2 linked regions of the Homo sapiens genome follow. The gene in region 2 interacts genetically with the main gene of each other region. Each region holds a gene or a part of one and is shown on either strand. Other genes may lie near its edges. The genes, in order: CAMK2B and CD22.

Region 1 (3,807 bases), on a different chromosome or scaffold from region 2:
TGGGCAGCCGACCCCTTGCAGCGCTGGCCAGCGGCCGCCACCACCACACCGCGGACACCTAGCTAGCAGACCGGTGTGGCTTGCTCTTTAGGGGTCATGCAAAAGAATTATCCCCCAGAAAAAAAATCCCCAAATTATCCCAGACAGGCAGCTCCGTGGAGGTGACAAGGTGAGAGGGAGAGGAGGGGAGGAGGCCCCAGGACGCCAGGGTGGCCGGCTGCTGGGCCACGTGCTGTCCGTGGTGAGCCCTGCCGCTGTCCCATGGCCCAGGGAGCCACTGGTGCGGAGCCCGGCAGATGTTTACCCTGTGTTCATGGATGGGGACAGCTGTCCTGGGCACAGCGTGGACGGAAGATGGTGTCCACTCTGAGTGTTCATCGGTGGACAGTCCCCTTGGAGTTTAGGATCCTGTGTCCTGTTCCCCATTCTGTGCCCCTCCCTTGGCTTGATTTGTAGGGGAAGATAAAGAAAATCCTTGTTGAAAACAATGTGAATTGAAAGTGGGCAGGCACTGGGGCAGGAGCCCCTGACCCTCTGCAGTCAGGGCTTGTGACCACCCCCACCCAACCTGGCTTCAGACCCACCCTGCAGCCCCACCATGCTCGGGCTTGCCCTGTCCCCGAGCTCCCCCATGGTACACACCATCACAAGGGGCCGGGGACCCACCGCCTCGAACCCAGGCAGCCGACGCTCAGGAGCACAGGGCTAGACCCTGCCCTCCATCCGCTGGTGTCCTGGGCCCTGTGCCCACCTGTTTCTGTCCCCAGCCCGCCTTATCTCCATAGCTGCATCCCTGGCCCACCTAGAAGGTGCCCTCACACGCACTGCAGCCCGCCAAGGCACTGGCACACCTGACACTGCACGGGCAGCACTGCCCTCACGCCTCCCATGTGCCCTAGGCTGGCTCCCACTGTAGCTTTTGCTCCCTTCTGCTCCCGGCCCAGATTCCAAAGGCACTCCCACTTCAGTAAACCCCTGCACAGACCCTTGTCTCAGCCCAGAAGCTGGGCAGCCACCACCTCTGATCCCGCTCTGCCACTAGCTGCACCACCCGACCAAACCCCAAGCCCCAGGCTTCCCCAAACCCCATCAGCAGACGAATATGCCCAGACACAAAGCCTGGCCTCCCCTCCCAGCTTCAGCTGGGGGCTCAGGGACTTGAGCGAGGCCCGCAGTCCTTTGTCAAAAGTCTGCTCCCCCTTGCGGGCTGCAGAGAAGCCGAACAGGCTGGGGGAGGGCCGAGGGGCGGAAACAGGGTTGGGAGCTGCCAGTGCATCTGCTGCTGGCCAGCAGAGAAGGGACAGACACCTCACACAGGAGGGGGGCCAGCCCAGGCAGAGTCCTCTTGCCACAGCTGGCTGTGTTGGAGCTGTAGCCAGCAGTGCTGTCTCTTGCTCGGCGAGAGGCCCAAAACTAAGCTGTGCCCCTCTTTGCACTTTACTCCCCCAGAAGGACCAGAGCTGGAGCCCTGGGTGTGTAGGGGCATCTCTGAAGGCCTTGGGGACGGGACTCCAGTTTCAATACTCCAGGGGGTGAGGGGCCGGCCTGGGCTCTGCCGAAGGGTTGTCCGTGCTGGGTGTGTGGGGATACCGGGCACGGAAAACCCACACCTAGCCCTTCAGGGGATGAAAGGAAGGGAAGGGAAAGCAGGAACAACAGCAACTCTCAGGCACAACTAGCGGGAAAGGAGGCAGCCCAGCGGGCCCCCACAGCCCCTCCCAAGAGACAGCTGACAGTCACGACAGCCAGCGAGCACACCACGTGGAGCCCATGCGTTGGCAGGAGGATGCAGACACCTTAGGTGTGGGGTGTGTGCGTTACCTACAAACTAACACCGTTCAGCACGCGACGGGGGCCTGGCAGACAAGTTCATGTCCCAGCTGGTCCCCCAGAGGCCAGGAGCACAGACGGACACACGTGGAGCTTGGGTGGGGAGTGGCCCCACGAATGCCAGTGATTTTTACAGCTTTTTCCTTCCTTTAGTTTTTTTTGTTTTTTTTTTTTTTCATTTCATCTGATGTCAATTTTTTTTGTGGTTGTCGTCGTCATCTTGTTTTTTTTTTTTTTTTTTTTGTTTTTTTTTAACAAATCACATCTGGTCTTGTTTTTCTGCAGACACAGGCACCAGGGGAGGGAACGAGGCAGACACAAACATGCGACAGGCAGGCCGTGTGCCCGAGGGCAGTCGGGCTCCAAACACCAACTCTGTCCGGCGAAACCAGGGCGCAGCTCTGAAATGGGGCGGGTGGGTCAGCTCCTCAGCAGCCCCCTCTCCCATCCACCCCCAGGCTCTGCTGTCTGCCATGCGGCACTGCAGAGAGGGTTAAAGTCCAGAAAAGGGCCCACTCGGGAGAGAGGTTCAAGGTGCCCAACCCAATTACTACTATCCCTGTAAAACTGGGCTCTGGGCCCGCTGCACCCACCACCTGGGGAACGCCCATCTGGGGCTCTAACAGTCCTCACAAACAGGGCATGGTGCCCAGGACTGTGCTGCCCGGGGCCCATCCACCTGCAACCCACCCAGCTCTGGCCAGTGTGGACTGCTCAGGCCCTCACCAGCTCCCCAGTCCTCTGGGGAGGCCTGCCACACCCAGCCTGCCGTGGTCCCTAATTTGACATCATTCCTGTGGCCTCACCAGGAAAGCTCAGGGACTTCCCAGGCATGGCTCTGCACAGGCCCCACCGCTCCCCATCGCCTCCCCAGGCTGCAGCCACTCACACCACCGCCACCCCTCTGCCCCAGCTGTCACTTAGCACAGAACACTCACCTTCACTGCAGCGGGGCCACAGGCGCGCCCGAGCAGTGGAAGTGCACGTTCTGCCACTTGCCGTCGCGGCGGTGCCACACGCGGGTCTCCTCAGACTGGCTGGTGCGGGGCCGGCCCTGCCCGTCAATGTACTGCGTGAGCCGGATGTAAGCGATGCAGGCGGCATCCTCTCCAATGACGTGCACGTGTGGGTTCAGGATGGTCGTGTGGATCGGCTTGCTGTTCTTGGCCAGCACTGTGGACAGCAGGCGGGGCGGGGGTCTCGGGTTACCATGACTGCCCTGGTGCCCGTCTTCCACCCCACCAGCCTAATCCTTTCCCTCTCTCAACTCCCCTTATTGGGGAGGCTCGGCTCTCCTGGGAGCAGCATGGGCCCCTCCAAGAGTGGGATTCTGGGGGCTGGGTATGGCCTCTGGCGGGGGAGAGGTGGCTGGCCAACCCTGGGCACAGAGGGGACAGGGCTTCCATAGGCAGCCACCATGCTGTCCCTGGGAGGGGCCGAGAGGCTCTCCTGGGGGCACCGCCCCCTCATGCCCACCCGGGCTTCCTCACTCACGGTTCTCGAAGTAGAATCTGTGGAAGTCCATCCCTTCAACCAGGTTGCCCAGTGCTTCAGGCTCAAACGAGGTCAGCCCTGGGTCACAGATTTTCCTGGGGGCCAAATCCAAGTGAGGAGGGGCCCCGTGGACCCCTGACTCTGAGCAGGCCCCCCCAAGGGTCCCACATCCTTGTCCTGCACAGCCCCCCCCCAGCCCCAGGGACTCACGCGTAGGCCTCAAAGTCACCGTTGTTGACGGCCTCGATGAGCTGCTCCGTGGTCTTAATGATCTCCTGCTTCCGGGCTGTGGGGAGACATGGCCAGGTGACCACTGGGCGCTGGCCCATTCCCCCCGGACCCCTCCACACAGCCCAGGGGAGGGCCTGGGGGAGCGCGAGCTGCATCCATGCCGTGTTCCTGCCGCTATTTGCAGAAGAGGTCCTCTCCGCCGCCCCCCCTGCATCACCAGTGGCTTCCTCATTTTCAAGTGCAACAGCTTCC
Region 2 (3,807 bases):
CCTGCTTTGTTTTTTTGTTGTTATTGTTGTTGTTGTTGTGTTGTTGTTTTTTTGAGATGGAGTTTCCCTCTGTCACCCAGGCTGGAGTGCAGTGGCGCGATCTTGGCTCGCTGTAACCTCTACCTCCCCAGTTCAAGTGATCCTCCTGCCTCAGCCTCCCGAGTAGCTGGGATTACAGGTGCCCACCACCACACCCAGCTAATTTTTCTGTATTTCTAGTAGAGACAGGGTTTCGCCATGTTGGCCAGGCTGGTCTTGAACTCCTGACCTCAAGTGATCCTCCCGCCTTGGCCTCCCAAAGTGCTGGGATTACAGGTGTAAGCCACCACACCCGGCCTCTTTTTTTCTTTAGAGACAGGGTCTTGCTTTGTCACCCAGGCTGGAGTGCAGTGGCGCAATCCTAGCTCACTGTAGCCTCAACCTCCTAGGCTCAAGCAATCCTCTCACCTCAGCCCCCTGAGTAACTGGGACTACAGGCATGTGCCACCACACCTAGCTAGTTTTTTAAACATTTTGTAGAGACAGGGTCTTGCCATGTTACCCAGGCTGGTCTCAAACTCCTGGGCTCAAACGATCCTCCGATCTCAGCCTCCCAAAGTGCTGGGGTTACAGGCGGGAACCACTGCACCCAACGCAGTCCTGCTTTTCTCCACTTTGAATCACTTTTGCTCACCCGAAATCCCCTCTGAAAGGCCTTGACCACACTAAGCCTCCTTGGGAACTGTGATCTACTTTTCTTTCATGCTCATTGCCGGATGTCTGCTTTCTGAATGATTGCAAAGTTCTATTCCCACCACCTCACCACCTCTTTTTTTTTTTTTTTTTTTTTTGAGACAGAGTCTCGCTCTGTCGCCCGGACTGGAGTGTAGTGGCGTGATCTCAGCTCACTGCAAGCTCCACCTTCCGGGTTCACGCCATTCTCCTGCCTCAGCCTCCTGAGTAGCTGGGACTACAGGCGCCTGCCACCACGCCTGGCTAACTTTTTGCATTTTTAGTAGAGACAGGGTTTCACTGTGTTAGTCAGGATGGTCTCGATCTCCTGACCTTGTGATCCGCCTGCCTCGGCCTCCCAAAGTTCTGGGATTACAGGCGTGAGCCACCGTGCCCGGCCTATTCCCACCACCTCTAAGTGAATTTTATCAGTTTAGTTCACGGACTTTTCAGCTTTGACAAACTTGTGTTACTTTCATGGCTTCCTTCAGTATTGCAGCCATCCACGCACCGCATTCCTTTAGTGGAGTGGGTCTGTGTGCACCCAGCCTCAGCTCTCCCCAAGGCTGGACCACCTCCTTCAGACAGCGGGGTCTGAAGTTGCATTGCTCACCCCAAATTTAAGGCTGCTCAGAACTGCCCATCCGGGAAACGGTGTGGAACGGAGTGACCACACTCCCTGTGGCAGGGGCCCCCCACACCTGTGTTTGATGGGTCAAAGCCACCCCTACATGTGCAGTGCTATAACTGAACCTATGTTATAAAAATTATAAGATGTTCGTTTTACTTCTTTTCTTTTCTCTTTGTCCTTTCCTTCCTCCATGCATGATTAGTTACATTTGGTCATTTCAGTAGCAGGTAACCATTAATTCACTCATAATTGTTTAACTTACATCCTGACTCCCTGGCAGCTGCCTGCAAGATAAATGAACTTGTCTCTCTTTCAAAGAACAATGATCCTTAGGTCACACAGACCTCCTTGATGACATCCAGAAATTTGATGAGCCGAGGGGCACAACAGCTTTGACGATCGGGAGGTCACCTCCTGCACACCTACTTTACTCATAAAAGCCCCCACTAACGCTCAAAGTCAGGTCAGATTTGAGAGTTTCTCTCTTCTGTCCCCTTGCTTTGGCTAAATTAAATAATCCTATCTCAGCTTCTAAGCACTGAGGTGTCAGTGTTTGGCTGACTACGCATCGGGAGCTCAAACCTGGCCTTTGGGGTTCAACAACAGTGTCATCTGACCTTGAAGAGCTCATGAGAACTTGCCATGAACATTAACATGCTGGGAGATTTCACTGGAAAATCTAGATTTCCATCGTCTCTTGAAAAATCAGAAGATCAGGCCGGGTGCGGTGACTCATGCCTGTAATCCTAATGCTTTGAGAGGTTGAAGCAGGAGGATTGCTTGAGGCCAGGAGTTCAAGACCAGCCTGGCAACATAGCAAGACCCATTTCTACAACAAATTAAAAAGTTAGCTGGGCATGGTGGCATGCACCTGTGATCCTAGCTACTTTGGAGGTGGGAGGATTGCTTGAACCCGGGAGATCAAGGCTGCAGTGAGCTGAGATCGCGCCACTGCACTCCAGCCTGGGTGATGACAGTGCGAGACCCTGTCTCATAAAAAGGGAAAGGAAGGGGAAGGGGAAAAGAAGAGGAAAAAAAGTAAAACAAACATTTTATGATTTTTATAACACAGGCTCAGTTATGGCACTGCACATGTAGGGGTGGATTTGACCCATCAAACACAGGTCTGGGGCCTCTGCCCTAGGGAGTGTGGTTACTCCGTTCCACACCCAGTTTCCTCTATAGGGAGCTCTGAGCAGCCCTAAGTTTGGGGTGAGCGATGCAGCTTCAGACCCCAATGTCTGAAGGGGGCGGTCCAGCCTGGGGGAGAGCTGAGGCTGGTTACATGCAGACCCACCCCACTAAAGGAATGCGGTGCTTGGATGGTTCCAGTACTAAGGCCAAACACGAGTTTGTCACAAAAGCTGAAAAATACATGGTGAGAAAGAAAGAGGGAAAGATCAGGAGATCCGATAACTTTGGAATCCAGGTCCCAGAGGGGCAGGAACTGAGGGTCAGATGGGACATCCGAGGTCCCGCAGCTCTGTCTAGTGCTGCTGCATCGCCATCGTCATCCGCTGGCGTCCCCTGCCTGAGCTCTGCAGGAAGCTCGGTTTGTGAGCTCTGTGCCAGGAGTCAGGTATTTCCTGCCTCCCACTCACCCCTGCCCAGAGCAGAGGACCCGCTCCCCGAAGGCCTTACCAGAGACATTGAGGTGTATTCGTTCCATCCATTTCTCAGTCTTGGACTCCATCCTCAGCCCCAGCTGACCACTGTCATTGAGGTGCACCGGGTGGATACTCAGTGTGCAGTTCTTATTCTTGTCTCCCAGGAATTGCACCCTTTTCTGCTCAGAAGGAACCTTCCCATCCTTTGTGCTTTCATAGAGTCTTGTCCCATCAAACTTCGAGGTGTTCTTGTTATACTCAGGATTGTGGAACAGGATGAAGCTTTCCAGGTCACCATCTAGGGCTCTGTAGGTGCAGGGGATCCAGACGCAGGCCCCCTCCCAGGCGTAGAGGGTTTCAGGGTGCTCAAAAACCCATTTACTTGAGTCAGAGAAAGCCAAGTATTCTAGAACTCACCACAGTGATCAGAAAGCATTACTAAGGGGGCATGAGAGCCTTCTTTTAAAAGTTATTTTTTATTTTAAAATTTGTTTAATTTTTTATTCTTTTTAGAGATAGGGGTCTTGCTATGTTGTCCAAGCTGGCCTTGAACTCCTGACCTCAAGTGATCCTCCCACCTCAGCCTCACAAAGTGCTGAGATTTCAGGCATGAGCCACTGCACCCAGCAGAGAGCTTTCTAAAGACTAAAGAATTCCCTCTGAAGATAGTGGGAGAAATACAGAGATACACAAAGACAGCAGGATGCAATGAGAGAAGTGTATGTATATATGGGAAACATATATATTTGTATGTACATTTATCTATACACACCGCTGCCCCCACCCTACCCTATGTTGACGCCTCTCTGCCTGGGTCTTTCCTCCTCCTCCAGTGCCCACTGACATCCCAGAACCCCA

What was found.
Region 1: changes in CD22 (region 2) and CAMK2B together harm fitness more than expected from each alone (negative genetic interaction), as found in Homo sapiens cells (one large-scale study listed by BioGRID).

What each region holds. Positions count from the first base shown.
Region 1 is NC_000007.14:44,217,292-44,221,098, forward strand, and holds part of CAMK2B (calcium/calmodulin-dependent protein kinase type II subunit beta), read right to left. Parts: intron 3,611-3,807; coding exon 3,535-3,610; coding exon of another isoform or gene 3,531-3,534; intron 3,420-3,530; coding exon 3,325-3,419; intron 3,004-3,324; coding exon 2,771-3,003; 3' UTR 2,769-2,770; intron 2,232-2,768; 3' UTR 1-2,231. UniProt on the Homo sapiens protein: Calcium/calmodulin-dependent protein kinase that functions autonomously after Ca(2+)/calmodulin-binding and autophosphorylation, and is involved in dendritic spine and synapse formation, neuronal plasticity and regulation of sarcoplasmic reticulum Ca(2+) transport in skeletal muscle.
Region 2 is NC_000019.10:35,332,101-35,335,907, reverse strand, and holds part of CD22 (B-cell receptor CD22 isoform 1 precursor), read right to left. Parts: intron 3,362-3,807; coding exon 2,984-3,361; intron 1-2,983. UniProt on the Homo sapiens protein: Most highly expressed siglec (sialic acid-binding immunoglobulin-like lectin) on B-cells that plays a role in various aspects of B-cell biology including differentiation, antigen presentation, and trafficking to bone marrow.